Regions from separate parts of the Homo sapiens genome. Here region 2 is linked to region 1. Evidence: fine-mapped expression QTL. Tissue or cell type: unexposed skin. Region 1 holds a variant in brackets; the other region holds the start of a gene. All regions are shown on one strand. Distances are from middle to middle.

Region 1 (2,500 bases):
GCATCTTTACTTTTATTATTTTACTTTTTTTGTAGAGACGGGGTCTTGCCATGTTGCAAGCAACCCTCCCACGTTGACCACCCAAAGTGCTAGGATTACAGTCATGAGTCACTGCGCCCAGCCAGTCAAAGGCATCTTAAGGAGTGATTGGAGACCCTGGTCACCCGTGGCTGTCTGGGAGCCTTGTGGGAGGAGAACTGACAGTTTCTCAGAGGATAAAATGACTAGAGAGAAGCTCCTACTTTTGGGAATGGGTATCAGGTTGGAAAATTCCAAATTCACTCTTGGCCCTGCCCTCAAGGCTCTGTGTGCATGTGCATGTGCACGTCCTTGCAGAATGAAGCACTCTGGCTATGACTCTTAAAAAAATGAGTAAAGAAGCACACCTTTCCCCACCACACTGGAACCACCTCTAGGGGTGGGAGGTTCCAAAAGAGTGGGCCCTGCAGCCAAAGATCAGAAGAAAGGCCAGCCCAGGGGCTGGAATGTCCTCAGCCACTGCAGTTCCCAGGGGCTGCTCCAACTTTTTTGAGCTTTGACCCTGGTGTGGGGGAGGTGCTGATAAAACAGAAGCTCTCTGAGGAAGAAAAATACCCTGTAACCTCTGAGATTTTGAGGACTCTTGGGATGAACATTTCACTTTGCTGGAGGGAGGAAAACAAACAAATTCTGGATTCACAGCAATTTCTCTAACGTGTAAAGCTTTGGAAACTCGACAGATAGAGAGTTTGCCAACGCTTGGCAGGACTCTTCTTTCTGAACCACAGCCAAAAATAATACTGACCCTAATCAGGCATGGATAAAGAATAGCTACTAAGAGCTAATATTTGGCTCTTTGTAGATAACAGTACCCTCAGACAGACCAGTCATGACATTAATCAGAAGCAAGGCAAGGAAGTCCTGCAAAGTAAATGACATCATCTAGGGCATTTCAAGGTATGTCCTCTCTCTGTGACACCTGATGATCTGCAGTGTGAACTGGGGAGGAGGGGGGTAGAATGCCAGGAATAAAGGTACTGAGGATTATTAATGTCCATTAATGGTTTTGCAGCTGGGCTGTGTGTAAGCACTAGCCAGGCCTTTGGTTACCAGATTTAAAATGGAATCAGATGCACACAGAGACAAGGGAGGAAAAAAAAAGAAGAGGGTCAACGGGTAGAAAGAAGACAGGACTTTGCAACTGGGGCAGCAAGAGACAGCCCAAGAAAGGCTCAAGGGAGAAGGTTAATTTGGCAGAGAAGATGAGCATGTGACAGTGGGGGAGGTAATTCAAGAAACAAAAAGATTAGGGTGGCAGGAAACAGAGCTGGAGGAGAACAAAGGGTGAGGTGATAAGGGAGGAAAGCAGCAGGCAAGGAGGAGTGAATGATAACAACAACAG[G/A]TCAGATATTGGCAGCCACTTTGAACTCATGGCCACCCAGAGGCTGGAGGTGGGGAAGGTCATTATAGATCCATTTGCGATACAGGAAACATCTCATGCCAGAAACTCCATTCCTATGATAATCTCAGATTTATACAGTGTATATGATTTATTTTAATCATGGGTTAAAGTAAGAATAGGCACAATGGTAAGAAGGTGCCTGAAAAGAGATATGTGAAAGTTAAAAAGAGAGAAAAAAAATGCTTTTATTTTTATTATATATTTTTGAGATGGAGTCTCTGTCACCCAGGCTGGAGTGCAGTGGCACAATCTCGGCTCATTGCAACCTCTGCCTCCCGGGTTCAAGCGATTCTTCTGCCTCAGCCTCCTGAGTAGCTGGGACTACAGGCACGTGCCACCATGCCTGGCTAAGTTTTTTGTACTTTTTTTTTTTTTTTTTTTTAAGTAGAGACAGAGGTTCACCATATTGGCCTGGCTGATCTCTAACTCCTGACCTCAAGTGAACCACCCACTTTGGCTTCCCAAAGTGCTGGGATTACAGGTGTGAGCCACCACGCCTAGACAAATAAATCTTTTTTTTTTTTTTTTTTTGAGACGGAGTCTCGCTCTGTCGCCCAGGCCGGACTGCGGACTGCAGTGGCGGAATCTCGGCTCACTGCAAGCTCCGCTTCCCGGGTTCACGCCATTCTCCTGCCTCAGCCTCCCAAGTAGCTGGGACTACAGGCGCCCGCCACTGCGCCTGGCTAATTTTTTTGTATTTTTAGTAGAGACGGGGTTTCACCTTGTTAGCCAGGATGGTCTCGATCTCCTGACCTCATGATCCACCCGCCTCGGCCTCCCAAAGTGCTGGGATTACAGGCAATAAATCCTTTTAATAAACATAGTAGGCCAGGCGCAGTGGCTCACGGCTATTATAATTCCAGCACTTTGGGAGGCCAAGGCAGGAAGATCACTTGAGCTCAGGAGTTCGAGACCAGCCTGTGCAACATGGCAAAACCATGTCTCTACAAAAAAATAGAAAAATTAGCCAAGCATGGTGGCATGCACCTGTAATCCCAGTTACTTGGGAGGCTGAACCCCGAGGATCGCTTGAGCCCAGGAGGTCATAGCTGCAGTGAG
Region 2 (2,749 bases), 160 kb before region 1:
TTTTTTTTTTTTTTTTTGAGACATGGTCTCACTCTGTCACCCAGGCTGGAGTGCAGTGGCATGATCTCAGCTCACTGCAACCTCTGCCTCCCAGGTTCAAGTGATTCTCATGCCTCAGCCTCCCGAGTAGCTGGGATTACAGGCACATGCCACCACGCCCAGCCAATTTTTTCGGTATTTTTTGGTAGAGATGTAGTTTCACCATATTGGTCAGGCTGGTCTTGAACTCCTGACCTCGAGTGATCTGCCCGCCTCAGCCTCCCAAAGTGCTAGGATTACAGGCATGAGCCACTGCTCCCAGCAAGAATTCTTAAGAGGTGTGAGTTGAGAAAGTGCACTTTTAATTTGGCTTAATCATGTCCTACCCGAAACTGTGACTTAAGCTTCTGGTTCAAATTTCTTTAGGAGTATTCCATCAGTAACTCTTCTGCCTCCTTCTCTCAGGTTTAGTTTTTAACCCTGTTTACTTTTCCTCAGGCTTCATTCCCTGTTGTGCCAGCTAAGAAGTTCAGGAAATACTTGAGTACTTAGTAGGTAGGAAGCGTGGGCTAGGCACAGATAATGCACTGAATTACCTTCTGTCTAACTTCAAAATTGCCAGATCCACATGGAAGGGAACTGGAGTCGTGTCACAATGAGTTGGGCTCCATCATGATAACTGGCCCCCCATCTTTGGAGGTGTATCAGGCAGGAATACAGAGAATTCATGCGTTAAGCATAAGTTTCTAAGATTTAAAGCTGCCTACAGAATTTTTTTTTTTTTTTTGAGATGGAGTCTCTGTCACCCAGGCTGGAGTGCAGTGGCGTGATCTCAGCTCACTGCAACCTCCACCTCCCGGGTTCAAGCTATTCTCATGCCTCAGCCTCGTGAGTAGCTGGGACTACAGGCCTGCACCACCATGCCCGGCTAATTTTTATATTTTTGGTAGCGACGGAGTTTCACCATGTTGGCCAGGCTGGTCTCGAACTCCTGACCTTTGGTGATATGCCCACCTTGGCCTCCCAAAGTGCTGGGATTACAGGTGTGAGCCACTGCACCCGACCTGTCTACAGAACATTTTTATTTGGAAGTGGCACAATTTCTTCAACATAAAAAATACATTATCGGCTGGAATATCACCTGTGTTCTTGCAGCTCCAGAGGATAACACCCCTCCTATGTTCCTCAAATATTTCAGGAAGCCCCTGGCCCTGTAGTCTCACCCTCCATACACTTATAGCCCTTAATTCAACCAAGTTTTGGGCACCAGTTTCTGCTGGGCTGCAGTGCAACACTCACTGCCATTTACAGCCTCGATTGCTTTTTACGTTTTCAACTAAATGGATTCCACTGAGGGCTCCTGGGGCCAGGGCCGGGTCTTCTCCCGCTTCAATACATAGATAATGAGTTAGTATTTTCCCTTTTCAGAGACTGGCCCTAGAGCCTGGCTCAAACTGAATAGACCAGAACTTACTGGTCCAGATCTGACCCGCTGCGCAATCACAGGGTAGGTGAGGGAGGCCCGGTTAAAAGCTATAATCCTGTTTGGAAACGTTCTCCGTGGGTCTGTCAGTGTCTCGGGCTCGGCGCCCGCGGAGCGTGTTTCCGACGGTGCCCTGCCGGGGTCCGCGCCGCTTTGGTCCTCCGCAGCCGCCGTCCACAGCGCCCGGCTCCGCGCGAGAGCCCTGCCAGAGGAGCGGCTCCGGCCGCCGCGCCTGACCCTTGTCCGGGGTCTTCCGCACAGGTTGGTTCGCCCCGCCGGTCTGGGGTCCCTGGTAGCAGAGATTGCGCTGGGGACCCGGAGCACTGCTCCTTTCTCGGCAGAGCGCGGAGGGGAGCCCGCTTGCTGCGGAGCCCCCGGCCCGCGCCTGCCCTGCCCGCGGGTCCGGGCCTCGGGGGCCTCCACTACGTCTACCCTTGAATTGGATCCGGCTCTACTGTCCCTGCCGCACGGGAACCCCCAGCCGGATGAGGGTCTCCCTGTTCACTGCTGCCTTGCGCCTTCCCATCCGCCTTGGTCCTGACCTGGCCCAGCCGAGGCCGTCCGGTGTCGCTGCGTTTGGGCTGGGCGGGAAGGTCTGTCATTGCTGACCCTGGCGCGCCGCGCTTCGGCGACAGCGGGAAAGAGGCTGTGCTGACCGTCCTCCCTAGGGACTGGACTGCCAAGGGTAGCTGGTGCCCTCCTGCACGGCAGGTCTGTCGAGCATTTCATTGGTCATCTCCCCCTCACGCCCCCATGGCCAATCTGACCCCAGCGGGGGCCCTTTTTTTGTGAATAGATGCCTCTTAACAATGTGAATTAAGAGCCCATTTTCCCAGTTCCTAGACTGTCAGCGATTAAAACACTTTCTAGGGTTTACTTGCGACTAGTACAGTGGTTAGAAATACGGGCTCTTGATGCTGATGGGGGTTCACATCCCGGCCTAGCCAGTTGTCATCTCTAGAAAATGGGGATAATCATAGTACTTACCTGATAAGACCACTGAGAGAATTAACTGAGATATGCACATCAAATGCACAGCTGCTTATCGCAGCTCCTATTTTTGTTGTTAGGGAATCTTTTCCCAGAAACATTAAAATGGCTGTGACCAGCAGGTGGCACTGGTGACTGTATAGTAGAGTGTTGAGCTGGTCACAGAATACGTGATAGTAGCCACAAGTGTTTAAAGGTGCTTTGGAAATCTTGGCTTAATGGGCAGGCTTAAACTTTCTTCACGCTAGAAAGTACCTTAGAGATTAAGTAATACTATCTCCTGTTTTTGTAGGTGAG

The links. PIP is the estimated chance that this variant, and not a neighbour inherited with it, causes the effect.
Region 2: SEC31B starts here. The variant in region 1 is fine-mapped to the expression of SEC31B in unexposed skin (GTEx, PIP 0.95).

Annotation. Positions count from the first base shown.
Region 1 is chr10:100,358,071-100,360,570 of GRCh38, reverse strand. The region is part of intron 5 of SCD (stearoyl-CoA desaturase); the gene reads right to left. Among named protein-coding and RNA genes, the nearest start is that of SCD, 12 kb to the right of the region's middle. The variant G/A (reference allele first, on the strand shown) is at 1,382.
Region 2 is chr10:100,518,756-100,521,504 of GRCh38, reverse strand. SEC31B (SEC31 homolog B, COPII component) reads left to right here and starts at 1,644. Exons shown (of 26, transcript NM_015490.4): 1 at 1,644-1,723.